Regions from separate parts of the Homo sapiens genome. Here all the other regions are reported to be linked to region 2. The links are microRNA targets in miRTarBase. Many come from high-throughput screens and were not tested one by one. Region 2 holds a microRNA gene; each other region holds the end of a gene's coding sequence.

Evidence for each region. The annotated mature microRNA hsa-miR-4777-3p reads AUACCUCAUCUAGAAUGCUGUA and lies in region 2 at 5,837-5,858, shown strand. An mRNA with a match to its seed (bases 2 to 7 or 8) in the 3' UTR can be bound and repressed. Matches are read on the target gene's strand: a 7mer-m8 pairs with bases 2 to 8, a 7mer-A1 pairs with bases 2 to 7 and ends in A, and an 8mer does both.
Region 1: the mRNA of TIGIT is a reported target of hsa-miR-4777-3p. Seed matches in the 3' UTR shown: 7mer-m8 at 869-875.
Region 3: the mRNA of GSTO2 is a reported target of hsa-miR-4777-3p. Seed matches in the 3' UTR shown: 7mer-A1 at 5,881-5,887.

The regions. Positions count from the first base shown.
Region 1 is chr3:114,307,880-114,314,990 of GRCh38, forward strand. TIGIT (T cell immunoreceptor with Ig and ITIM domains) reads left to right here. Exons shown (of 4, transcript NM_173799.4): 4 at 16-2,409. The coding sequence ends at 252. It overlaps LOC124909411 (a long non-coding RNA gene), which reads left to right and starts at 4,200. Exons shown (of 2, transcript XR_007096008.1): 1 at 4,200-4,280; 2 at 5,307-5,533. It overlaps ZBTB20 (zinc finger and BTB domain containing 20), which reads right to left. Exons shown (of 12, transcript NM_001348800.3): 12 at 6,621-7,111. RefSeq lists enhancers at 1-73, 827-876, 1,047-1,226.
Region 2 is chr2:231,356,928-231,367,475 of GRCh38, forward strand. It overlaps MIR4777 (microRNA 4777), which reads left to right and starts at 5,781; the gene lies at 5,781-5,866. It overlaps ARMC9 (armadillo repeat containing 9), which reads left to right. Exons shown (of 25, transcript NM_001352754.2): 23 at 3,827-3,956. RefSeq lists a silencer at 3,570-3,864 and an enhancer at 3,742-4,385.
Region 3 is chr10:104,295,690-104,306,237 of GRCh38, forward strand. It overlaps GSTO2 (glutathione S-transferase omega 2), which reads left to right. Exons shown (of 7, transcript NM_183239.2): 6 at 1,889-1,995; 7 at 3,439-9,261. The coding sequence ends at 3,595. Among named protein-coding and RNA genes, the nearest start is that of ITPRIP-AS1, 22 kb to the right of the region's middle. RefSeq lists enhancers at 3,544-4,743, 4,560-5,061, 5,062-5,561.

The DNA.
Region 1 (7,111 bases), not on the chromosome of region 2:
TTTGTTTGTTTTTAGAAGAAAGCCCTCAGAATCCATTCTGTGGAAGGTGACCTCAGGAGAAAATCAGCTGGACAGGAGGAATGGAGCCCCAGTGCTCCCTCACCCCCAGGAAGCTGTGTCCAGGCAGAAGCTGCACCTGCTGGGCTCTGTGGAGAGCAGCGGGGAGAGGACTGTGCCGAGCTGCATGACTACTTCAATGTCCTGAGTTACAGAAGCCTGGGTAACTGCAGCTTCTTCACAGAGACTGGTTAGCAACCAGAGGCATCTTCTGGAAGATACACTTTTGTCTTTGCTATTATAGATGAATATATAAGCAGCTGTACTCTCCATCAGTGCTGCGTGTGTGTGTGTGTGTGTATGTGTGTGTGTGTTCAGTTGAGTGAATAAATGTCATCCTCTTCTCCATCTTCATTTCCTTGGCCTTTTCGTTCTATTCCATTTTGCATTATGGCAGGCCTAGGGTGAGTAACGTGGATCTTGATCATAAATGCAAAATTAAAAAATATCTTGACCTGGTTTTAAATCTGGCAGTTTGAGCAGATCCTATGTCTCTGAGAGACACATTCCTCATAATGGCCAGCATTTTGGGCTACAAGGTTTTGTGGTTGATGATGAGGATGGCATGACTGCAGAGCCATCCTCATCTCATTTTTTCACGTCATTTTCAGTAACTTTCACTCATTCAAAGGCAGGTTATAAGTAAGTCCTGGTAGCAGCCTCTATGGGGAGATTTGAGAGTGACTAAATCTTGGTATCTGCCCTCAAGAACTTACAGTTAAATGGGGAGACAATGTTGTCATGAAAAGGTATTATAGTAAGGAGAGAAGGAGACATACACAGGCCTTCAGGAAGAGACGACAGTTTGGGGTGAGGTAGTTGGCATAGGCTTATCTGTGATGAAGTGGCCTGGGAGCACCAAGGGGATGTTGAGGCTAGTCTGGGAGGAGCAGGAGTTTTGTCTAGGGAACTTGTAGGAAATTCTTGGAGCTGAAAGTCCCACAAAGAAGGCCCTGGCACCAAGGGAGTCAGCAAACTTCAGATTTTATTCTCTGGGCAGGCATTTCAAGTTTCCTTTTGCTGTGACATACTCATCCATTAGACAGCCTGATACAGGCCTGTAGCCTCTTCCGGCCGTGTGTGCTGGGGAAGCCCCAGGAAACGCACATGCCCACACAGGGAGCCAAGTCGTAGCATTTGGGCCTTGATCTACCTTTTCTGCATCAATACACTCTTGAGCCTTTGAAAAAAGAACGTTTCCCACTAAAAAGAAAATGTGGATTTTTAAAATAGGGACTCTTCCTAGGGGAAAAAGGGGGGCTGGGAGTGATAGAGGGTTTAAAAAATAAACACCTTCAAACTAACTTCTTCGAACCCTTTTATTCACTCCCTGACGACTTTGTGCTGGGGTTGGGGTAACTGAACCGCTTATTTCTGTTTAATTGCATTCAGGCTGGATCTTAGAAGACTTTTATCCTTCCACCATCTCTCTCAGAGGAATGAGCGGGGAGGTTGGATTTACTGGTGACTGATTTTCTTTCATGGGCCAAGGAACTGAAAGAGAATGTGAAGCAAGGTTGTGTCTTGCGCATGGTTAAAAATAAAGCATTGTCCTGCTTCCTAAGACTTAGACTGGGGTTGACAATTGTTTTAGCAACAAGACAATTCAACTATTTCTCCTAGGATTTTTATTATTATTATTTTTTCACTTTTCTACCAAATGGGTTACATAGGAAGAATGAACTGAAATCTGTCCAGAGCTCCAAGTCCTTTGGAAGAAAGATTAGATGAACGTAAAAATGTTGTTGTTTGCTGTGGCAGTTTACAGCATTTTTCTTGCAAAATTAGTGCAAATCTGTTGGAAATAGAACACAATTCACAAATTGGAAGTGAACTAAAATGTAATGACGAAAAGGGAGTAGTGTTTTGATTTGGAGGAGGTGTATATTCGGCAGAGGTTGGACTGAGAGTTGGGTGTTATTTAACATAATTATGGTAATTGGGAAACATTTATAAACACTATTGGGATGGTGATAAAATACAAAAGGGCCTATAGATGTTAGAAATGGGTCAGGTTACTGAAATGGGATTCAATTTGAAAAAAATTTTTTTAAATAGAACTCACTGAACTAGATTCTCCTCTGAGAACCAGAGAAGACCATTTCATAGTTGGATTCCTGGAGACATGCGCTATCCACCACGTAGCCACTTTCCACATGTGGCCATCAACCACTTAAGATGGGGTTAGTTTAAATCAAGATGTGCTGTTATAATTGGTATAAGCATAAAATCACACTAGATTCTGGAGATTTAATATGAATAATAAGAATACTATTTCAGTAGTTTTGGTATATTGTGTGTCAAAAATGATAATATTTTGGATGTATTGGGTGAAATAAAATATTAACATTAGTTTCATGCTTCTTTTTATCTTTTTAACGTGGCTACTGGAAAGTCTAAAATTGCATATGTGGCTCTCATATTTCTATGTGACTGTGCTGCTCTAGTAGCTAAACCCAAGCCAAACTGATACCCAGGGAGGGTGTCTATCTATGTCTATTGGTCTCCATTTCTTTTTCTTTCAAAATAGTGTTTGAGGAAGATTTTCCTGCTTATGATGTCTTTTGGGAAATATGTAGGGAAGCATCACAGAGAAGATTGAGGAAGGGGAACACTCAGTGCTGACAGGAAGCGATGCCAGGCTTTTCTGGGTCCCCTCGTGGATTCCCTAACAGGAGGAGCGAATAGACAAATCTATGAATGAGCATTCAAGGAGGAATACATTACTGATTCCCTGACCACATTCTAAGCCTGGGCGTACAAGTCTGATCTATAATCCTGAGAATTATACTAAAGAAACGTGAGAAACTTTGAGTCATGGAGCTTTGAGATAGATGGTCTTCATGAGTGAACAGGACCTCACTATGCAATTTTATTTCCTGCCTTTTCCCCTTTTCATTTCTCACCACTGTGAGCCCCAGAAATGAGTCGTCATACACTCAGGTTCATTCAGATTCCATCAGTGCTGAGCTGGACAGGCAGGGAGGCTGGGTGTGAGGTCCACCAATGACAGCATTCTGGTGGGCACACCTCACCCCACAGAGAGGGGGCAATGGGCAGTGTGGCTGTCATTTGTGGGGTGTGAGTTTTGTTTAGTCTCCTGATTCTTTCAGGTGCTGCTTCATAGCTGTAACTGGTAGTTTCCCACACTTACTCCAAGTCACACCTGTCAAGAGGTACAGGGGAGCTTTTTGTGTGGCAAGAGCCTGAGCTTTCTGGAAGTCACAACGATATACTCAATGTTTGAGGTAATTTATTTGCATAAGGTAGTGTAGGACAATGCTATCCAAAGAACTTTCTGCAATTATGGAAATGCTCTATGTCTGTCCCATCCAGTATGGTAGCCATTAGCTGCATGTGGCTGTTGAGCACTTGAAATTTGGCTAATGTGACAAAGAAACTGAATTTTAAATTTTATTTCATTGTAATTAACAAATTTAAATGTAAATAGCAACATGTGACTGGTGGCTAGTATATTGGACATTCCAATTCTAGTAATTGCCTTGCATATAGAGAAAACACAGACAGCTGTGTTTATAGGACATTGGATGGCTCGCCAGTTGTTATGCATTTGAAATGGCTATCACCAGGAAGAAACTTGAAGGTTCTCCTCTACTCTCCTATATCCATCCTCTGATCGAGACAAACCATGAGGTCAAAGCAGGCTGTACATTTATTTATTTCAGGTTTTTTCAAAAAAAAAAATCTGAGGCAGCTAAGTGGTCCAGTTCATGTAAATAGGGCCAAAATTGTCAAGAAATTTGCAACTCATAGGGGTTATGCAGAAATAGACTGTCATCACAGGACTTACCATAGACTATATTCATTCTGACTTCATGTAGGCTGTGAAGAGCACCTTCTCTGGGACTAAAACTCTGATGGACTTCACAGAGATCAAAAAAGAAGTAATCATGGAGTGTAGTGGACAGGGAATTTAGAAACTTGGTCCAAGTGCTGAGCTCTGCAATTAGTTTCACGACTTTGGATAAGCCACTTAACCTATCAAAGACTCATAAATATTTCCTCATTTATAAAATGGTAATATTACTATCTTTCTAAGATTCTTAAGAAGATGAGGCAGGAACGTGGCTGACTGCTTTGTGAGCTGCAAGATGCTGGGTTAATATTATTGTGTTCTGCCCCAGGAACACGTGCACCAGGTAATGCTAATGATGCCACAGAAGTTTTCATGGAGGCAACAAAACTGGCTTGGAGCAACTGAGGTATCTGAAATTATCTATCAATCAATGTTCTTAAAAACTGAGATATAAGGAAAGCTAAGAGTTGCAGATACAGCCTTGGGGTCCACAAGTTCTCTGCAAGCGTTTAAACATTGTGTGTTTTAAGTGAAATGATAATCTTCAAAGAAGTCATCTATATCTGGATGTTGATAGCCTTCTTAAAACAGAGTGTTGTCATTGGTTTTAGCCTCTATGTTTGTGTTTATACATATAAACTTGATTATAATCAAGTTTATTTAAAGGCACAGAAGCTTAATTTATAAATGATTCATTTACTCCCAGATGGGTGGAGAAGTGGAAGACTTTGCAGTATTGAACTAACAGGAAAGTGAAGCGATAATTGCTTTACTTTGCACACTGTAGTGTAGGGATGTTGTATTCAGAAGGGTGTGTGCAGTACACTTAACTTTGTGAGCCATGACTTAGATTCAGGAAAGCATCATTCTATGCACTCATTGTTATTGTAGACATTACTAATTTTATAGTTTTACTTGTACTTAATTAGTAACTTGTAGTTTTATAATTCTACAAGGGATATAAGCATAGTAAGTTCACTTGTCGTTGTGTTTGAGCCTATTTAAGAATGTCTATAATAAAATAATTATGCATATTATGAATTTATTACTAGATATTATAATAAGAATAATTATTTTATTATTATCGCCTCCCATTGAGGAGGTCTGTGAAACTATTTTTTTTCCTTCATATGGGCATACACACATTACTCAAGTTTGAGAATAATGGTATGGTATAAATATTATTGGATTTCAGAAAACCTGACCTCAGGCACTAGTTTATTGTTTTTTATTGGAAAAACACATATTTCTGAACCTGTGTTTTTATAAATTAGTGCAATCATAGCTACATCACAATATTTACAGTATAACTGTGAAGATGAAGGATATTAAGGAGAAACTTTGTAAACTGTGAAGTACCATATGAGTAGCGTATGTGTCATTTACAATTATTACAGCCTGTATATAAATCGCACCACAATGTTTTTAACAGGTACAGAAGAAAACTTAAGAGTGTGTGGATAGTGCAAAGAGAGATCCAAGACTTTGGGTGAAGCTGGCTGGCATTGTTAAGAAGATGTTGGTTCACAGAAATGATATAGAGACAAATTATGCATCATGAAAATATTTTCTTCCTCTTTATACTTCTAGACTATCAATCAGGTTGACTTAGAAGTTCAGCAATTGAGTTGCAAGAAGTAAATATTTAAATTCACAGTGGTAATGTTGAAATCTCAGGAATTTATTGACATCCTTTCAGTCTAGAGGTCTCTTGATGACTCTCCCCATCCCAAGCTCATGCCTGGATATTTTTGTGCTCCTCACACTGGTGGAAATGTCTGTCCACACTCAGCTTCTCCAACTCAAAGCTTAGTGTTCTTGCGAGTCCCCAAACTAGACCGCTTATTCTTTGGACCCTTTCTTGACTCACTCTAGCCATTATCAACTTCCTGTTAGTTTAGAAACTCCCTTGGCATTGAGAGTCTGAATGGCACAATCTAGCTCTTGATTTTATACAAACCTCTCTTCATGTCTAGTTGTTAGATTTTAAGCCTTCTCATGGCTGAAATAATTTCCTCTCTTTTATTCATACATTGCACAGTGCTGACTGAAATACAGAAGACATTGTGAATTTAATTTGTGTTGACTTCACCAAGGACAAACAAGATATAAGTTTTCTTCACCATATTAGCACTTTCTGTAAGAATGATGAGATCAGAGAGCTCTTTATGGCCAGGGTCACTATAACAAAGAATCTATGGGCCAAATAGGAGTCCCTTATGAGTCTCCAAAGTCATTAAAGAGGGGCATGTTTTGTGCCATGAACTTTCCTTTTTTGCATATGGAGCTGAGAAACCCAAAAGTTAAAAAGGAGACTCAGTGATAGATTCATGGATAACAGAGATGGGTGGAAACAAGAATAGGTGGGCATAGTGTTATAATATGGGATTGATTATTTCCACAGCAGGCAGACTGTGATTTGCATGTGGAAAAGGAAAAAATGTGAATCAATTTGTAGAGCAATAAGTGATCCTTGTCATTTTTGAGGTTTGAATATGTATAAGACAATACACCAATTTGCTTTATATTTCCTCAAAGTGACTTCGACATCACCAATCCTGTCTGTAGTTCCTACTTCTTGTATTGAGAAGACTAATATACTCAGAGTTTTTCTGGCCTTGTAGGTAGAGTCCTCAGTTTGGATAAATAATCTCAGATTAGACATAGAATACAATGTGTGAAAGAATGTGGAGAACTGCCTAAAACAGAAACTACAGTATAAAGAAGACACAATAGGAAACCAAGAGAAGAGTTTTTTTTTTTTTAATTATTCCTTCATATTCAAACTTCACAAACAGTGTGAACTTGTACAATACCTCGGAAAGTGAAACTTACAAAAAAAGTGCTGGTAACATTTAAAAAAAAAACAACAAAAACCCCAAAAAAACAAACATCATTCTTAGCAACATCAATTACTCTTCCACACAAAACAGAAACCTTGTAAAATTTATTTTCGTATTTTTAAGGCGTAATACTTCCGTATAAAGTATATGCAAGAGATAAAACTTCACAGTATTCCAAAATGTCACAATAATAATAATAATATAATAGTATAATGAAGCGCTACAGTTAATTTTTCTTTTTTTGAATGTTTTTTTTCCTGTTTAAATAACAAATACAAGTCACAGGTAAATATACGTGAGAAAAATACGAGGCTAATATTAAATGGCAGGTAAGGATACTGTCACTGTAAGAAAAAACTGGCAGGATGTGTGTATTTAGTCTATATTTTAAAGC
Region 2 (10,548 bases):
CCTGAAAGGCTCCACAGTACATTCAGGGTAACGTAGCGGTAACATCCTTGCTTTACCAAAATGACCACTGAGAGGCCCTTTATTTTTGCACTGATTGGACGTGCCTTTGGGAAGCTGTCATGCTGTTACCTGCAGGGCGGAGGCACTTGAGGTTGGCATGGATGGAAATGGCCAAGGAGCAGCTGCTGCAATGTTGATGTTATTGTTGTTTTCAAGAACAGTTTACTTTAGCCCTGACAAAGTCTGGGCCCAGGCACATTCCGGGTTCTTGCATGAACAGGGTGGGCACCCACCAGGACACTCAGCCTTGGTGGTCACGGGCGGTTGCCAGTGCTTCTTCCTAGGGAGGCAGCAGCTGCCCACCAGCCCCCAGATGGACCGGCTGGAGGCAGAGCAGTGCTTTTCCCAAATCCCGCTGTCAGTGCCCCCATTAACCTGCCCCAAATGCTGAGACCGTGTTCTGAGTGTCCCTTCCTTAAGCCTGCTCCTATTGGCTCAGCCTGGCTGGGACCCAGGACACGGACCCACGCAGCCCTGCCCTTCTCCACCTGCCAGAGACCAGGAATAGTCACTGCCCTCCCTGGCCCTGCCAGGCCCGCTCTGAGCCTCAGGCCAACACCCCTAGTCCTCCTTTTATTTTATTTTATTTTACTTTATTTTATTTTATTTTGAGACAAGGTCTCACTCTGTCCCCCAGGCTGGAGTGCAGTGGCCAGTCATAGCTCACTGCAGCCTCACATTCCTAAGCGATCCTCCCGCATCAGCTTCCTGAGTAGCTGGCACTACAGATGCACCACCATACCAGGCAAAGTGGTTTTCTATTTTTTGTAAAGACGAAGTTTGCTGTTGCCTAGGCTGGTCTTGAACTCCTAGTCTCAAGTAATCCTCCTGCCTGAGCCTCCCAAAGCACTGGGATTACAGGCGTGAGCCATCATGCCTGGCCCTCTTAGTCTCCTTTAAAATCCTTTTACTTGACAAAAAGTTCTTCCTTTGGAAAAACCAAGCCCCAGGTGCAGTTTCCTCTGGGTCATGAGTAAGCCTTTGCCACGCTTGGAGTAGATTCCATTCTGACCTTCTTTCAGACAGGCCTGCCCACGGCCTGTTGCGTCTCCCCAGTTGGCCTCCCTGCCCCTCTCCCTGTCCTGTCACCTGCCTCTGCCTAAGGGATGGATGGCAAACAGCCCTCTGCTTCTGTGCTCCATCTGGGCTTTGCAGATAGGGGGACTGCGGTTAAGTCCATTAAGCCAGGGTATGAATGAGGGGGAGGGGGATGAGCAGCAGGGACAGCAGGGAGTGGGCAGTGCTGGGCTGGGCATGGGCACCCCTGAGCCATGTTGCCTTCTGCTTCATTCCTTCCCTGCTCAGGAGCTTGCTCTGACTTCCTCCAGACAGTCCTGCTTCTCCATCCCTCCCCTCCACTTCAATTGATTGATTGATTGATTGATTGATTGATTGTAGAGAGAGGTGTCTCTCTGTGCTGCCCAGGCTGGTCTTGAACCCTTGGGCTCAAGCGATCCTCCCGCCTCGGCCTCCCAAAGTGCTGGGATTACAGGCATGGGGCCCCCTCCACTTCCCTTCTCTCACTCACCTTGCCCCAGGCCCATCCTGGCCCCAGGCAGCGCTCCCCACAGGTCTCCTTGCACACAGCTCGCTGCTGAGTCTGGCCTGTGCTGGGAACTAACGCCCCACCCAGAGACCCCGTGGAAACCCCCACCTTCACGCTGAGTTTCTTGAGGAAGAGCCTTTGCGCTTTGCGTTCAGTCAGCACCGCAGGGAAAACTCATGAGGAGGAACCTGTTGGACCCTCAAACTGCTTGATCGGTTGAGTGCAGGCCCAGAAAGTACATTCTAGGCAAAAGACAGCCCCAAATGCCAACAGGAAATAGTTCCCAAGGGAAAAGGCCAATAATATGGCTTAGCATTTTGCAGAACGTTGGCCTAAGGAAAGCTATTCTCATTTCCCCACCAACCAGGACTATCTTCAATATCAAAATCACATGCCTTGGGACTTCATAGCCCTGGGAGTTAAAATGCCCAGCCCTGTCTGAAATGGACCAGCAGGCAAGAGATACTACTGTCCCAGGAAGACCCCGGTGCACACCCATGGCTGCCCCATCTCCTAGCTCCTGGCTGTCTTAGTTAGGGGGGTCTCCTGTTTTTTTTTTTTTTTTTTTTTGAGATGGAGTCTCGCTCTCTCACCCAGGCTGGAGTGCAGTGGTGCGATCTTGGCTCACTGCAAACTCCGCCTCCCGGGGTTCAAGTGATTCCCCTGCCTCAGCCTCCTGAGTAGCTGGGATTACAGGCATGTGTTACCATACCCGGCTAATTTTTGTATTTTTAGTAGAGACAGGGTTTTACCATGTTGGCCAGGCTGGTCTCAAACTCCTGGCCTCAAGTGATCTGCCTGCCCCAGCCTCCCAAAGTGGTGGGATTACAGGCGTGAGCCACCGTGCTCAGCTGGTCTCTTGTTCTTGGTGGGACCTCTGAAAGTCTTCAGTGTGGCCTGTGCTGGAGGAAGTAGGAGAGGAGAAGGGGACAGTTGAACCAAGACCACCTCATGGTCTTGGGACACTCCAGCTCAGTTCCTCCTTTTTTATGACCACCCCGTCCCCTACGCTCACACCCCCTGGGAAGCTCCTGGTCCTGGTCCTAGAGGACTTGCCTGGCGTGGGCACAGCTTTGTGACTCCACACGTTGTAATGGGGTTCCCCTGCGTGTAGCCCAGCAATTCGGTGTGACTTCACTCAAGTATTCTCTTGTACACCTACGCTTTTTCTCCTGGCCTTATTCTAAGCACACTGAGCATGTGCCTCCTGTCCTGAAGCTCTATTTCTAGACCCAGATCCAGGTGGAGACCGCCCAGTGCCACCCGCTGGGTTCTGGTATCAGAAATAGATTCTCGTTTGGGTCAAAAGAGAATTATCTGGAAGTCAAAGCCCCTTGCTACAGGGAAACCTGCAGGGAAGATCCCTTTATATTTAAGATTAAACAGATCACATTGCAAAGCCACAGAGGAGCTGCTAAAATGAAAGAGCTGAGAGGAGCTTGGCCTAAGGGAGTCACGGATGCAGCCTCTGTCACAGTGTCGCTGCAGCAGTGACATGGACCCCTTCAGCTGTAGGAGAAGAGGAGAGGCGGGGTGGGGGAAGGGGTGCGTGGCATCTGAGATGCAGGAACATCTGTTCCCAGGCCCTTGGGGAGCCCTCCGTATGCTATGATGCTATCTGGGATTCTCCGTCTGCTTCCCCGTGAAGGGCTCCTGCGTGTCCCGGGTGGCCTGGTTCTGGGTGGGCATCAGCTACAGCACAAGTCACTGGGAGTTAGGGCACTTCCTGGCCACCCTGGGTGTACCGAGTGGTTCAGCATTAAGGAGCCTTGGGCTGCTCGGTGAGGAGCACCCTACCTCTCAGGTTGTTGGTTTTAGCAAATAAAACTACACACCACCCAGTTACATTTGAGTTTCAGATAAGCAAATGGGCCTCCACATTCTGTCTGGGGGCGCCTAGCCATGGCCCAGGGAGACAATTTGTTGTTCTGAGGGCTTTCCAGAGGCTGAGGGGTGCCAGGAAGGCTGAGCGGCCAGGGTGATCTGAACCTCCCTGGGCTGTGCCTGTCACCACCAGCAGTGTGCCTGCCATCCCCCGCTACCTGGCAAGTTCCCGGGCTGCACGAGTAAACAAGTATCCCAAGCCACAGGCGCCAGGGAGCCCGCAGGGCCTGGCCTGGGGTGCGTGCTTTTCTTGGCTTTCCAACCCAGCCCACGAGAGGGCATCCTTAGAGGGGCTCCAGAGCAGATGTGGACTGAACTTTCTCTCCTCCTCCCCAGCAGCCATCATCGCCAAGCCAGGAGAGTGGCTCCCAAGAGGACGCCAGGAAGAGCCTCGCCCAGCCCCCACGGGGACCCCCCGCCAGCCAAGGGAGGCGCCCCAGGACCCAGGCAATGGAGTGACCACCAGGTAAGGGGGATATCACAAGGCCTCGAACCTGACTCTCGGAGCTCTGGGAGTGGGCGCCCCACGCCGGATGCAGAGCACCCAGGAGACCTGGAAGGCTCCTCTGAGGCCCAGCCTCTGACAGGGGAGGCTAAGGAGCAGTGTCAAGATTCCCAGCGGAGTGCAGCCGCCACTCCTGACCACCTCGGAGGGCTGTGCTGCCTGAGAGCCATCAGTCAGACGGGAAGGACACAGCACTCAGAAGCATGCCCATGGGACTAGTTTTCAAAACTGCCAGGCGGACTTGTCCAGGGCTGGGTGATGGGGTGACTTAGGGACAGTGTCCTGTCAGCTTTTTGCATTTGGAGGAAGTGGGCTGTAGGGCAGAAAGATGGAGAAGGAGGTGAGTAAATGGTTTGGCTCAGAGGTCACTTCCTGAAACAGAAACTGGGCCTCCAGGCTGGGGCGTGGTGGCGCACGCCTGTAATCCCAACACTTTGGGAGGCTGAGGCAGGAGGATTGCTTGAGCCCAGGAGTTTGAAACTAGCCTGGGCAACATAGTGAGACCCTGTCTCAAAAAAAAAAAAAAAATCAAAAAACTAAAAAAAAAAAAAGAAAAGAAAAAACTGGACCCCCGAGCAGAAGAAAAAAAAAAATAGTGTCCTCTCTTCCACTGTGCCACGTGAGCACAGACTGGCCCTGTGGGTTATTAGGGGTTCTTTAGGGTCTAGAAAGGACCTTTCCAATCTCGCCAGCTCTTTCTTTTGGATCTGGAGAAACCTGCTCAGGGAGAGGGGCCTGGCCTGGGTCTCAGACCCTGCCTGTCCCTGACCACCAGGCATGCCAGCTGCCCCTCACCACTTCCTCCTGGCCATGAAGGAAGCCAACCTCCTGCGGTAAAATATGGGGCTGGAGCAGGCTCAGCTTAGTTCTGGGGGCCCCCGGAGAGGACAGGCAGGAAGACTGAGCAGAACCTGCACCCACTGGTGGAGAAAATCGGAGAGAGAAAGAGGCAGGAAGAGAAATCAATGGGGAGTGGCAGACAGGAGGAGGATGTAAGAGAAAGGGGGCGCAGACAAGTGTGCTGAGCTTCCTTGGGTGGGATGGGCTAGAAGCCGAAATCGGAACTGTGGGAAGGATGGGAAGGACTTCAAGACCTGGGCTAGGGAAGGGTGGGGGCAGTCCCAGCTATCTTTAAGAAGCACGGGGTCAAAGGTGGCTGCATTACTGGGGGAGGGGCCAAGCCTCTGGACTCCTCCAGTTCCACTGCCAACCTGCCTGGGGACCCAGGGACCTACCTCCCCTACCTGGGCCTCCTCCCCTCTTTCTGTGGCTGAAGAGGAGCTTGTCAGCTAGACCAGGGGTTCTCAGGCTCTCAGCATCCCCCTGAAATGGGGACTCAAAATGAGAGACCTCTGAGGAGTGGGCTAGAGCTATCTCATGCCCCCAGTCCAGACTGGATCCTCCCCTGCGGTTCAGCCAGGCCAAACCTACGCTTCCGGTATAGGCCACTTCTTTTTACTTCCTGCAAATGCTGAGTTCATTTCTGAGGCTCTCCACTGGGGACAGCCCTCTCTCCCCAGAAATAACTGTTTTCACAGTAGGTAGGCAGCCGACCCTGAGGGACCTCATTACATCAAGCAGCGTTGCCTAGCTGGCCCCCCAAGATTCTACTGAGCACAAAGACCCCTCAGGGTCCAACCCAGAGGTGCCCTCCCCTTGGTGTCAGTCACTGAAGCCAGCTCTTATTTTAAGCCTGGGAGTTCAGTGTGAGGAAGAAGAGGATGGAAGGAGGGAGAAGTACAAGTTGTTCCATCTTCCTCTTCCTCCCTCACTGGCAACGTCATCTAGAATATTTCGGCATTCTAGATGAGAGATATATATATACCTCATATGTATATGGTATACCTCATCTAGAATGCTGTAATATTCTAAATCACAAGTGGCCATCTCTTGTCAGGCTGACTTCAGCCCCAATTCAGGTCTCACTGAAGCATCCCTTCCTCCTGCCTGACCCCAAAGTGCGGGTCACGCCCTTCTGCCAGGCTCACAGAAGCCACAGTCCCTCCACGGGGCGGAGACCCCACTGTGTTGTCATGTGGCTGCCTCTCACTGCCTCAGAGACAAGCGCAGTGTGCAGGGCACAGAGAGCGTGCAGGGCCTGCTGGGTATACGGGGAATGCAGGGCTGCAGGGAGTGTGCACAGTGTGCAAGGTATTCAGGAAGTGCAGGGCTGCAGGGAGTGTGCAAGGAGTGCAGGGAATGCAGGGCATGCAGGAGTGTGCACAGAGTGCCAGGAGTGCAGGGCATCTGTGCTGTGCTTCTGCACCTGGCCTAGGTGGTTAGAGTACTTGTTGATGAACAAGTAGGAGAAAGGGAGAAAGAGTGGTTCTCTATGTGGCTTTGGTGGGGAACGTTTGTCCCCTCAACTTCCCCGAGCTCTGTTCTCTTGCTCTTTCAGGTGAGGTCTCATACCCAGAAGAAGAATTGGTGGATGGGCAGGAAGCCCTTGGGGCAGAGGTCTGGGGTCAGTGGTAGACTGAATGATGGCACTGTTACTTAGCCCAGGAAGCCCTTGGGGCAGAGGTCTGGGTCAGTGGTAGACTGAATGATGGCACTGTTTACTTAGCCCGGCTTTCAGGTGTTTTAAGGATAATGGCCACTCAAGCTCTGTGCCAGTGACTTCCAGCAACTGTCTTGCTGTAAAATTACTTTCTCGGAGGCTAGAGAATAAAAGTCTAGACCTGCCTGGCGCAGTGGCTCACGCCTGTAATCCCAGCACTTTGGGAGGCCAAGGCGGGCGGACAACGAGGTCAAGAGATCAAGATCATCCTGGCCAACATGGAGAAACCCCGTCTCTACTAAAAATACAAAAATTAGCTGGGCGTGGTGGCACGTGCTTGTAGTCCCAGCTACTTGGGAGGCTGAGGCAGGAGAATCGCTTGAACTGGGAAGCAGAGGTTGCAGTGAGCCGAGATCGCACCACTGCACTCCAGCCTGGACGACAGAGTAAGACTCCGTCTCAAAAAAAAAAAAAAAAAAAAAAAAAAAGCCCAGACCCTACAATCATGGTGCCTTCCCCCAACCCCCATGGTGAAATTTTCCTTTTCCTTTGTCAGCTTCTTAGACTCCTTAGATTAAGTAGCAGGATAAAACGAATGTTGACCAGCTTTAAAGATGTATTTATTAAGAAACAAATGCATTTATCCTGCGAAGAGCCAAAGTGCATCCCAAGAAGTATGTCAGTCCAGACCACAGAGGCTGAGTTGCACCCCGGAATGTGCAGGAAGGTGATGGCAGGGCTGCCTTGACTGTCACCTGTCAGTCCTTCTCAGCATGGCCCTGCCACTCCAGAAGAGCAGCCCCAGCCAGGTGTGGGGTGCTTGTGCCTGGAAGTTCACCTCCACGTGGCCTGAGGACAGGTGAGGGAGGTGGCTCTGTCTGAGGAGCTCCTCGCACTCAGGCCCAGGACAGGATCAGAAGCAAATGTCAAAAATCTTGTCCTGCCACAGATGAGAAGTGATTCTTTTGCAAGTGCTGTGACTTTTTTAAAATGAGAAGAGATTGTACATATGTCTACATGTATGCCTTTCCCCTCACGTTTGTCCCTGAGGATGGACAGCAGCTCCCAATGGCACATTCATGCATCCAGCTAAAGAAACAACACATGCTCATGCCTGGAATCCCAGCACTTTGGGAGGCCGAGGCGGGCGGATCACCTGAGGTCCAGGAGTTTGAGACCAGCCTGACCAACATGGTGAAACCCTGTCTTTACTAAAAATACAAAAATTAGCCGGGCATGGTGGTGCATGCCTGTAATCCCAGCTACTCGGGAAGCTGAGGCAGGAGAATCATTTGAACCCAGGAGGTGGAGGTTGCAGTGAGCCGAGATCACACCATTGCACTCCAGCCTGGACAACAGGGCAAGATTTCATTTCAAAAAAAAAAAAGAAAGAAAGAAAGTGGCCCTCGGCAGAGCATCAGGGAGCTGCCCCTTGGCCTGGCAGAGCCCACCCCGTGAGGCACCCTGACCACCTTGGGGGCTGCTTCAGGCAGTGCCTGTGTTGACCTAGGAGGCTGGGCCCCTATCATTGGATGCTCCAGCTGCTCTAGGAAGGATGCAGTGGGAGGTGGGGTGGACGGCTGTTGGTAAGTGTCAGCTGAGCCCCTGGTGGCCTCAGGGCCCTCCATCCTCCCAGCATGGTGAGCTCAGCAGCCTGGAGGCAGCCAGGAGCCAGGGCCAGGAAATGGCGCTGGTCTGGCCTGAGATGAGGCCAGATTAGGGCAGAGCAGAGAAACCATGTGGAAAGGAAGTCCAGGACGGCAGTCACCTATGACATAGGGGAAGTCACGTGCCGCAGAAACGCATGGGACTGAGTCCTGGAAAAAATGTAAAGGGTGATATACGGGAAAGTTGGGAGGTGCTCTGCAAGGTAGGCGATTGTTTATTAGAGCAGCCTGGCCCTTATATGATCTCAGCGTATCAATAGGAACATTGTGTTGGGAGGGAAGAGCCATAAAATGCCTCGGGAGATGCTGAGTCTTTCCCTGTGTTTGCAATGCTGCTGAGTCATAATCCGGCTGCTAAGCATCACCCAGCAGAGGATCCTGTGTCCCTTCTGTTTGCATTAAGCCCAAAGAAAAGCATTCAGGGCCCCTAGGCGACTCTGCCCAGAGGGTTCATAACCGGCTCTCAGTTATTGCTGCGGACATTTCATCTGGATTATAAGAAAACCCAGAAAGGGGCAGAGGTGGGGAAACGGGCCAGAACAGAATACAGCAGATAAAGGCAGATAGGAACCAGCCGCACACACAGCAGATGGGAACCAGCCGCACACACAGCAGATAGGACCCAGCCGCACACACAGCTCCCATGCCATGGGCACACACTTGGCGACACGTCTCAAGCTCCTCGGCCTCCTGGGGCTTCATGTGTCGTTTCTTTTTCTTTTTTTTTGAGACACAGTCTCGCTCTGTCACCCAGGCTGGAGTGCAGTGGCACGATCTTGGCTCACTGCAACCTCTGCCTCCCGGGTTCAAGCGATTCTCCTGCCTCAGCTATTTTCTCCAGTGCCAGTGGGAGGGGCCAGGCAGAGGGAGCCCCGGTCTGAGGAGGCTCATTCCCACCCCTCACAGTCATGTCCTAGGGAGAGGGGGACAGGCTTAAGGTGTATTAGTTAGGACTCTCCAGGGAAACAGAGAGGCTGATTTTAGGGAATTGGCTCATGTGATTGGAGAGGCTTGGCAAGCGCAGAATCTGATGGGGTAGACCAGCAGGCTGGAGAGTCAGGGGAGAGTTGCCGTTCAAGTCCAAAGGCCATCAGTTGGCAGAACCCCTTCTTGCTCAGGGAATATCAGTCTTTTTCTATTATGGCCTTCAGCTGACTGGATGGGGGCACTCATGTTACGGAGGGTGATCTGCCTCACTCAGAGTCCACTGATTTAAATGTTCATCTTGTCCAAAAAAGAACTTCACAGAAACATCTAGAATAATATTTGACCGAATATCTGGGCACCATGGCCCAGCCAAATTGACACATAAAAATAACCATTACGGGCCAGGCACGGTGGCTTATGCTTATAATCCTGGCACTGTGGGAGGCCAAGGTGGGAGGATCTCTTGAGGCCAGGAGTGTGAGGCCAGCCTGGGCAACATTAGCAAAACCCCACCTCTAAAAAAATAATAAAATTTTAAAAATTGGGCCAGCTGCGGTGGCTCACGCCTGTAATCCCAGCACTTTGGGAGGCCGAGGTGGGTGGATCACGAGGTCAGGAGATCGAGACCATCCTGGCCAACATGGTGAAAACCCGTCTCTACTAAAAATACAAAAATTAGCCGGGCATGGTGGCGGGTGCCTGTAGTCCCAGCTACTCGGGAGGCTGAGGCAGGAGAATTGCTTGAACCCATGAGGCGGAGGTTGCAGTGACCCAAGATCATGCCACTGCACTCCAGCCTGGTGATAGAGCGAGACTCTGTCTCAAAACAAAACCAAACAAATTTTTTTTTTTGAGACGGAGTCTCGCTCTGTCGCCCAGGCTAGAGTGCAGTGGCGCAATCTCGGCTCACTGCAACCTCTGCCTCCCGGGTTCACGCCATTCTCCTGCCTCAGCCTCCCGAGTAGCTGGGACTACAGGCGCCCGCCACCACGCCTGGCTAATTTTTTGTGTTTTTAGTAGAGATGGGGTTTCACCATGTTAGCCAGGATGGTCTCGATCTCATGACCTCGTGATCCCCCCGCCTCGGCCTCCCAAAGTGCTGGGATTACAGGCGTGAGCCACCATGCCCGGCCAACAAAACAAATTTTAAAAAATTATTTTTAATAACCATCACATAAGGGCTTTGATGCCCAGTGGCAAATTGCTCTCCAAAAAGATGGTGTCCTCTTCCAGTTATCCTTGAGGTGGGACGTTACGGATTCCTGGGCCCTGCCGCCCAGGCTTTCTCTCCTTGGGCTTCTTGTTGACTCACCTCAGCTGACCCTGACCCTGCAACTTGACCTTGCTGCCTGCCGGCTTTAAGGCGCCATATGGAAGCCAGCTATCCCTCCTGGAATTGCACTGCCAGTTCCTCCAACCCTGGGGGACCCTGGCTGCCTTTGAGGGCTGCCTCCCAGGC
Region 3 (10,548 bases), not on the chromosome of region 2:
CAGCACACAGCACAGGACCAAGTCTGCTGGTTCCCAAGCTCACATCCTTACCTACAACTCTGAATCACCCCACAGCAGAGTCAACAAGCTGGCCTGGCATGTGAAGAAGCAAGCCTGGGTGTCTCCTGGCTGCCAGTGCCATCCCTGCCCCGGGACCCTAATCCACAGTTTGATTCTGGTCCTTTTGCCCTCTGTCCCTCACCAGAACCCTGATATTTCCAGATGAAAACACGAGTATAGCTTATTTCCACAACTCACCTGGGCCCAGCAATCAAGATCTATAGCTATAGGGAAGTATTGAGTTGATTATGAGTTATATAGGTCAAAATGAGTAGCTTGCTTGATTGAAGCAGGTAATTCGTGCCATACTTTTCTCTTTGGGAAGACCTGTACCAACAATAACCTCTGCTAAACACTTTCGCTTTTTTAAATTTGCAGGTACTTTTTTGGGGCTGTCTTTGGCTGCCTGTCTGTTGAGAGTTTGTTTTCTTTACAGTCCATCTGATTTACAGTCCCTCCGGGTTGATTTGTCTCATTTGGGAATGAGAAATTTTATTTTAATGCATTAAGTAATAGTGTTGAGTGGCCAACAAATGTGAAGTTTGAAAAGCTCAAATGAAAAAAAAAGTGTGATAGAAACACAGAGTTGGGGGCCGGGTGCAGTGGCTCACACCTGTATTTCCGGCACTGTGGGAGGCCAAGACAGGAGGATCCCTTGAGCTCAGGAGTTTGAGACCCCTGGGCAACATGGCAAGACCCCAAGACCCCATCTCTACAAAAAAAATGTAAAAATCAGCCAGGGGTAATCCCAGCTACTTGGGAGGCTGAGGTGGAAGGATTGCTTGAGCCCGGGAGGTTGAGGCTGCAGTGAGCTGTGATCGATCTACTGGACTCCAGCCTGAGTGACAGAGCAAGACCCTATCTAAAAAAAAAAAAAAAAAAAAAAAAAGAAGAAGAAGAACACAGGTTGGAATTTGAGGGGGCCTGTTAAATAGGATGCTCTTTCCTGCCTTAGTTTTGAATTAATTGAGAAGATAAAATAATAAGGCATGGAGATTAGAGCATCCCCTTTCTTTTTTTCTTTTTCTTTTCTTTTTTCTTTTTTTCTTTTTTACTTTTTGCTCTTCTTGGCCAGGCTGGAGTGCAATGGCACAATCTTGGCTCACCACAACCTCCGCCTCGCGGGTTCAAGCAATTCTCTTGCCTCAGCTTCCCCAGTAGCTGGGGTTACAGCCACGTGCCATGATGCCCAGCTAATTTTGTATTTTCAGTAGAGACGGGGTTTCTCCATGTTGGTCAGGCTGGTCTCGAACTCCCCACCTCAGGTAATCCACCCGCCTCGGCCTCCCAAAGTGCTGGGAATACAGGCATGAGCCACCAGGCCCGGCAGCATCCCCTTTCTTATTGATAAAGCAGATCTTGGAGAATGGGAGATCCTGAGCGGGGTTCCTAATGCTAGCCTTCAACATCAGGCTGAGGCTCACCTTGTCTTCAAGTAATGGGCAGTGCTGGCCTGAAGGGGAGCCTCCTCTGTCCAGGGCTCAGCTTATCCTTGGAAGGCTTAGCACATTGAGGAGCTGCTCCAGGCTAAGAGGGAGGGACTGGGGTACTCTGTAGAGGTTGTTCTTCCAGTTTCTTCAATCAGATGAGCCACACTGTCACTCTAGTGTTGAAAGGAGGGAAGGGACAGAGGTGGCCAGGAGTGTGACCCTAAAAGAGGCAGAGGAGACCTCAGAGAAAGAGAAGAAGCATTCTCCTAACCAGAGGGAGAAGGAGAGAGGCCTCAGTTCTCCCTCTCTGGGAATTAATTTGAGATTTACATTTAGTGTCTATAAACATGTCAGCAGATATATAAACTTATTTGCTTTTGCTTTGTTTCCATTTTTAGATTCTTGAGTATCAGAACACCACCTTCTTTGGTGGAACCTGTATATCCATGATTGATTACCTCCTCTGGCCCTGGTTTGAGCGGCTGGATGTGTATGGGATACTGGAGTAAGACATTTGACATTGTGGTGTTAAATTCCCGGAGTCACACTGAGTAACAATGGTTAAGATGGTCTGCATGCCCCCTGTAGACATGTTTCAGGATGTCTGTGAAGTGAATCAGGTTTCTAAACCGCAGTGTGTGCTTCCTTGTTAAAAACATATGTGCTTTTCCACTGCTAACTTCAGACCCACACTTTGCCCGCATTTCTGCAGATCAGACCCCTAGCCCAGGAGCCTCCCGCAGACTTCAGAGCCTGCTGTCCTCACCAGCGCCCCCACATGGCCGGTCTGAGAGCAAGTGGAGAGTCACAGTCACAGTCACAGTGCCCAACGCCTCCACCTGGTCCTGACGGGTCCCCAGGGGACACCATATAACCTTAGTCATGTCTCATTGCCCGGAGGAATCTTCCCCCAGATAGGAATAACCTTATAAAAAAGATTTGTGTAGTAATATATGCTTGATATTGGAACATACAAACAAAATGGCAGTGACACACTATGGAAGTATGGAAGTGCAGGGACATTAAAGGAGAAGAAATAGCTGTGTAGGCTCCTGGGCAGAGCAGTGCTGTGTTACTTCAAAGCTCAGTGAAGCTGGACGTGTGCGGACGTCCACCCTAATCCAAGCCACCCTCATGGTGGGTGCTGGACATTTCTGGCACTTGGAAATCCGGCCCTGCTGAAGCAGAACTGTGTCTGCACCTTCATAACCCGTGGGCTGGAGCCCAACCAGCCACTGTCTCCTGCACTTCCGACTTCAGCTCTCTTTGTCAGGATATTTAAAACTCAATATCAAACATAAAATTTACAAAAGGCTGTATCCTCTGAAGACAGAGCATGGAGTCACAGGTTAGGAAACCTCACTTCTAGTCCTGGATTCCCGACAACCCATTCATATTATCTTCAGCTTATTGCTTTATAAACCCCAGAACTAAATATCCTGGTTGAGCTTTGAAAGAGCCCTGTCGGCTCCATGACTTCAAGGTTTCATCCTTGTTTTATTCATTTAAAAAATGTTTTAGAAATTATTTGTCTTTATTTTTTTATATCTCCTAAAGTAAAATCTGAGAATGACCCAAGAATATTTGTTTCAGAGGGTTGTCTTTTTGTTGGCAAGCAGTGAAGCACATGTAAGTTTCTCAAGCTTTAGAATATATATATATTAAAAAACAAAACAAAAAAAATGAAGCACAGACATGTTATTTTCCCAGAGCCATCAGTCCAAAGTATTTCACTGTATTATTAGAAGCAACAACTTCTAAACATTCAACTATTCCAAAAATAAGATTTTCCTCCAGTAAGTTATCATTCTCACTTGATAATAAGATAACTAAGATAACTTCCCAAATAAACTCATTCTTCATATCTTGCAAATCTAAAAAGCAACGTGCATCCCCTTTCCTGATGCCTACCCCTGCACTGTGCTGACGCTTCTTTCCTGTCTTGCAGCTGTGTGAGCCACACGCCAGCCCTGCGGCTCTGGATATCAGCCATGAAGTGGGACCCCACAGTCTGTGCTCTTCTCATGGATAAGAGCATTTTCCAGGGCTTCTTGAATCTCTATTTTCAGAACAACCCTAATGCCTTTGACTTTGGGCTGTGCTGAGTCTCACTGTCCACCCCTTCGCTGTCCAGAATTCCCCAGCTTGTTGGGAGTCTACGTCACGGCTTGTCTTGGGAACCAATCCGTCTCTCTTTCTTTTCTTTGAAGTTCCCAATAAAATGAAAACAGGAAATGTATTCTTCTGATAATCATTTGTCTGACTCCTCTAGCCTGTAGCTGCTGCTACTGCTGCTTTTTTTTCCTTTTTTTTTTTGAGGCAAGATCTTGCTTCGTTACTCAGGCTGGAGTGCAGTGGGACAGTCGGCTCACTGCAGCCTTGAACTCCTGGGCTCAGTTGATTCTCCCGCCTCAGCCTCCTGAGAAGCTAGGACTACAGGTATGTGTCACCACGCCCAGCTAATTTTTAAAAAAATGTTGTTGAGACAGGGTCTCACTATGTTGCTCAGGCTGGTCTCCATCTCCTGGCCGCAAGCCATCCACCCAACTTGGTCTCCAAAGTGTTGAGATTACAGGCATGAGCCACCTGGCCTGCCTAGCCTGTAGCTTCTAACTATTTTCTAGAAAGTGCCTGGTGCTAATGTCAGAGCACATTTTGGGAGCCTGTGTGCCTCCTAACTCCTTGGCCTTCAGCCTAGTTTGATCTCCAGATTATTGGTGCAGATGCTGATGCTGAGGTTCAGGGTCAACCTATGACTGATGCTTGTCACTACAGAATGGCACCCTCCAAAGACCTCCCTGGTGAAAGCTTAAGAAGAGGGAGAAGGAAGAAGAAAACACTCCAAACCTAAATACCTTCCATTTGGCAAATGAATGTCGCTGTCCACGTGGGCGAGTATGAGTGTAATTCTCCAAACTTTGGCCATGGGCCTGGAGACACCGAGGGTCTTGTGACTGGAAAGAATTCCAAAGCAGGAAATGAAACACCGGTTTATCACCCAGGACTAACTACGTCAGAATTTCACTGGTGCTGTCAGGGCTCAGGATGTCTCACAAAATGTTCTATAGCCGGCATCCTGCCTTAAAAAAATACACACGCCCCAAACCCAGCCACAAGCAAAGGTCATTCCGTTGGATTTGCGTCACACTCTCTTCCAATTCATCTCAACAAATGCCTCTGGTTGCCTGTTGTGTACCAAGCCCAGGGGCACACTGGGGATAAAGTTGAAAAAGACATTGGCTCTGTCCCTGGGAGCCCCCATCTCTCCACTTATCTTGGTTGAGGTTTTAAACCTAGCGCTTTGGAGCTGCTTGTCTGTTGTAGGGATGCTTGTCTCTGATGTGGCCCCTCTGCCAGCTTCGCCAGGCAGTACCACCCCACTGAAGACAGCAAAGAGCTGAGGATGGCTGGTGCCAACAGGTCCCTTGGGCTGGGAGCATCTACTGCCTGCACTATGGGAGGGGGACCAAGTTTGTCCAATGCTGTTTCATCTCAGTGTCTGAGGATCAGCCTGTGATCATTTCAGCTTTGCTCATGCTGGATCCTTTCCCATCCTCCTAGCTGTGCTGAGACACCAGGCAGCAACAGGAGCGATGTTTTGCCTTGTCTGTGCTCCCTAAGGAGCTGTCTGCCACCTCTGCCTCTGAGACAGCCCAAATCAGCCCTCCTCTCTCCCCACGTCTCAGTCTGGCCCTGCCATCTGCTGGCTCTGGGTATATTTTGACCCATGTAAATAGTTACCAGGTGTTACTCTGTGCCAGCTGGACAGAAACAAGCCTGCTTGGTGAGGTGGCCAGAACTTCCAGAAGAGGCAGCGCATGACAGGGGCAGTCTGCCGCACCATCTGCTCCGGATGTGGAGCCCTGTTGCCATGGCACCCTAGTTAATGCTGAGTGAGGTCTGTGAATCACCGTTTTCCTGGGATCTTTGCTCCAAGAAGAGGGGAATCTTCTCCTGTGGCCTCTCATAGGACTTAGGAGATTGATCAGCCTTTTGCCGGTACAAATCCTGCATGCTAGTGAGTGCTTGTCATAAGACCAAAGTTACCACTGATGCAACAGGAAATGGCATGCCTCTGGCTCACCAAAATGAAGGTGTTCTCTTTTGGGGCTCCGCACACTAATTTAGAAAGCTTGAAGAACCAGGAATTATAGAATGGAGAAAAGCACTCATGGGGGAGGTTTGCAGCCTGGTGGCCTATAGCCCAGTTTGGGATTTGAGTGCCTCTTGGCCAGGCATGCTCCCTGCTGTTTACCAGGGTCCTGGTCACCTGCACATCCTTACACTTCCTCCATCTCGCTTCTTTGTCACTTGTCTGACCCACAGAGAAAACTGAGTTATCAATCTTTGAATAAAACTAGAAGGATGTGGCCTGGAGAAAAGAGGGAAGGAGGTAATTAAATAATGCTCCATGAAGAACTTTAAAAATATGCTTCTTAATTAATACATGTGGAAAGAATACATATGGGTTAAAAATACAATAATGTAAAAGAATAGAAAATCTTCCATTATCTTGTGTCCTAGAGATAACCACTTTTAGTAATTGGTGTCTACCTTTTTTTCCCCTTTTCTTTTAAATAATAGAGATGGGGTTTCGCTATGTTGACCAGGCTGGTCTTGAACTCCTGGCTTCAAGTGATCCTCCCATCTCGGCATCCCAAAGTGCTGGGATTATAGGTCTGAGTCATCATGCCTGGTGGGTGTCTATCTTATAAAAAGCACTAAACTTAAAGATTTAAAGGTGAGAGCCTGTATTAGGCCATTCTCATGGTGCTATAAAGAACTGCCCAAGACTGAGTAATTTATAAAGGAAAGAGGTTTAATTGACTCACAATTCCACATGGCTGGGGAAGCCTCAGGAAACTTTCAATCATGGTGGAAGGGGAAGCAAACATGTCCTTCTGCACAAGGTGGCAGAAGAGAGAAGTACAGAGCCAAAGAGGGAAAAACTCCTTATAAAACCATTAGATCTCATGAGAACTCACTCACTGTCATGAGAAAAGCATAGGGAAAACACTCCCACAATCGAATCACCTCCCTTGAGGTCCCTCCCCCAACATGTGGGGATTATAATTCAGATTAAAATTGAAGATGAGATTTTAGGTGGAGCACAGCCAAACCATATCAGAGCCATTCTCTATCTTTTGCAGATTGGAAAAATAAAAAAATTAGTTTAAACCACAGCATTTAAAAGAAATGGTCATAGATGATGTTAACATCAGAATGGAGGTTGTGTGGAGTTCCCCTCCTTGGAGGTTCTGAGCTACAGCCTAGCCTGGACTCAGTCCAGTTACAATCTAACATGGCTAGGGGGAGGAGGGAGCATGATGGGGCAGGGCTTGTGTGGCTGGGACAGCTGGCTATGGTCGTGGTGCTGGTGACTAAATGGTACTTGAAATTTCTTTTAGATCTAAAATTCTGTGATATGGTTTGGATCTGAGACCCCACCAAATTTCGTGTTGAAATGTAATCCCCAATGCTGGTGGGAGGTGATTGGATCATGGGGGTAGATTTCTCATGAATGGTTTAGCACCATTCTCTTGGTGCTGTTCTCATGATAGTGAGTGAGTTCTCATGAGTTCTGGTTGTTTAAAAGTGTGCAGCATCTCCCTGACCCCTCTTGCGCCAGCTCCCACCATGGGAGATGCCTCGCTCCCCCTTTGCTTTTTGCCATGAGAGGAAGCTTCCTGAGGGCTCTCCAGAAGCAGAATCTACTACACTTCTCATACAGCCTGCAGAACCATGAGCCAATTAAACCTCTTTTTAAAAACACTTTTATTTTAAGTTCAGGGGTACATGTGCAGGATGTGCAGGTTCGTTCCATAGGTAAACATGCGTCATGGGGTTTGTTATGCAGATTATTTCATCACCTAGATATTAAGTCTAGTATCCATTAGTTATTTTTCCTGATCCTCTCCCTCCTCCCACCCTGCACCCTCTGATAGGCCTCAGTGTGTATTGTTACCCTCCACATGTCCATGTGTTCTCATGATTTAGCTCCCACTTATAAGTGAGAACATGCAGTTTTTGTAAACCTGTTTTCTTTAGGGAAAGTTTAGAATTTTCTAGAGACTGGTTGTATGGTTGTGACCAAAATGCCAGTAGTGATATGGACAGTGAAGGCCAGGCTGAGGAGGTGATGGAAATGAGGAACTTACTGGGAACTGGAGCAAAGGTCACTTTTGTTATGCTTTAGCAAAGAACTTGGCTGCATTGTGCTCCTGGCCTAGGGACCTGTGGAAGTTTGAACTTGAGAGTGATGATTTTAGGGTATCTGGCAGAAAAAATTTCTAAGCAGCAAAGCATTCAAGATGCGCCCTGGCTGCTTTCAACAACCTATGCTCATATTTGTGAGCAAAGAAATTATGTTAAGTTGGAACTTATATTTACAGGGGAAGCAGAGCGTAAAAGTTTGGAGAATTTGCAGCCAGCTATGTGGTAGAAAAGAAGAGCCCGTTTTCAGGGAAGGAATTCAAGCAGGCTGCAGAAATTTGCATAAGTAAAAAGGAGCCAAGTGCTAATGGCCAAGAAAATGGGGAAAAGGCCTTGAAGGCATTTCAGAGACCTTTGTGGCAGCCCCTCCCATCACAGACTCAGAGGCCTAGGAGGACAGAATGACTCTGAGTATTAAAGTAGATTTAATCTAAATCATAAAGTACAAGCTAGAGCAATCCCTCCAGTGCTGCAGAAACTGCCTGCATGTGGCTCCCACATTGTTTCTTGGAGCTTTGGTGGTGGTAGGGGTGGCAGGGGCAGGTGTTATGTTTCTTGGTTTCTCACCTTCAGGTCTCCTTACCCATGTTTCCTTTGTCAGAGTCATTGGCCTTGATGGAGGGGAGACTGGGTTACTCTGAGTTGAGAAGCAAGCTTGACTGCCCTGTGGTTTATATCAGCCTAGCTTAGTTTGTTTTCTGAAGTCTTCACAAATAACCAAATATCCAGCCCAGTGCAGTTCTCAATGAGTAGTCTCCAGTTCCCATCCCCCACCACACACACACACCAAACACTGTGCCCACCTGGGAGACCCATTTTCATTTATCTTCTTCTTTGAGTGCCTGGAAGGCTGAACATTTGATCTTTTCAAACATTTTTCTCTCATCTGGCCTGTTAGCGCTCTTGAGCCTTTGAAAATGCCATTTCCTCTACATACTATTCTTCCTCAGAGCAGCCCTCTGTTTTTTTTTCCAACCAGTCTTTTCTCTTGCAAAGTTCAGATCAAAATTCTTCTTTATGTAAAGAGAAGTGGCGTGCCATAGGGGTTACAAACAGGGCTTCAAGGTTAGCACTGGGATCAAATTCCGACTTTGCAACTTAACTTTCTTGAGTAAGTTGCTACACCTCTATTAGCCTCAGTTTCTTATCTGTAAAATGGGACGGCTAAGTACCTATTTCATTGGGCTGTTGAATAATGATGGTCTCATCTATGCAAGGGCTTAGTACCAGCTGGGTGAAACTCAGTGAATGGCAGGCAACCCTATTATGACTAGGCTTCTGCCAATGATCAGACTTGAACCCTGTGCTCATCCCCCCATCACTTTGTGGAACTAGATGTCCTACGTTGCACATGGCTTGATTCATGGTTTGGAGTTGTTTTCTGGTTGTTTCCTGTGTGCAGGTTTAATCTCAACCTGTGATCCCTTGAAAGCTGCAATTTTATCCCTCCCCGTCCTCCTCCCTCTCACCCCAAGGCCAAGTTTAATACTGTGCATTCTGAAATCTTGCAATGTTGATGATGTAAAATAAATCTTCTCTCCTGTGTTTCTGAAGAATACTCAGAATCTCGCTACTCTGTTAAAGAAAAAAATCATTCACTGACACTTGTTTAAAGCATGTGAAGGAAGACTTCCTCATAACCATCACGGTAGGTATCGGGGCCGCTGCAATGAGACTTCTGCAGTTGGGGAGGGAGATTGGGCTCAACTCTGAGTACAAGACGAACAAGTGGGTATTTATAGCCCAGAAGTAGAGCAGAGGTCAGTGGATTGAAAATCACTCGGAGGAAACGTCAGGGATAAGGAGGATTCTAGCTAAACTGACCTAACAGGATTCTTGCTGAAGACAGGCCAGGATGATCAGACATCACCAGAGGGCTGGCGGAGGACAAGGAACTTGATCAGATATCAAGGATGATCTGATACTGAGGTGGGGGAGTTCTTTTGCCAAACTAACTTAGCAGGGTTCTTTGCTAAAACAATTTTACAAGGACACGCACAGATGAACCTAGGAGGAGGTTCAGGAGCCTGACTAAAGTTTGGTCAAGCAGAGAATCTTTGTCTCCTCTTGGAGCAGGTTATCTCTTTCCAAGGGTTAAAATGTGAGGGATTTGAAATGCCTGCAGGCCTGCCCAGTTACCAATCAGCTTGGATGCTGAATGGAAAACTAAAGCACACCAGTACCATGCTGCGCATAGACAGGATGGTTACACATGTGCTCCAGGGACAAGAACTGTGCAATACTCTGCCCTGCCATTTCCTCCCAAGGATTCCTGCCATGCCCAGGAATCCCCTTGCAGACAGCAAGGGTCTCTGGCCTACTTTGTCATTAGCAGACAGCCCCCTCCAGAGGGAGCAGTTGAGCAGCAACAGTCAGCTCCCTGCTATAGAAGCCAATACGAAGAGCCATTTCCAGTCCTGTCCTGGGGCTAAGATGGACAAAGCAATGGAGGTAGTAGTTGCTTAGTGATGACGCTGCCCCCCAGGGAACCCTGAGTAGGGGCAGCCTCTGTTCCAGCATCACAGGACTGGGGCAGGGAAGTGGGAGGATGACTGTTAGCAGGAACAGCTGTTGCTAAATCTGGGCGTATTCAGGTTACGCTCACAGGTGAAGAATATCTCTCAACGGGTGTGTGTGTGTGTGTGTGTGTGTGTGTGTGTGTGCGCGCGCGCGCGCGCGTGCGCGTGTGCATGCGCATGTGCAGCACATGCACCCTTTGTGCCTTTCTGCCATAAGAGGAGGGTATCAGGATGGATAATGAGGAGCTGTATAAAGGTAAGGGCGGGAGGTATTTTAAGTATTTCACTTAATGGTTTTTGGCCATTTATTTGCTAAACAGAAAGAC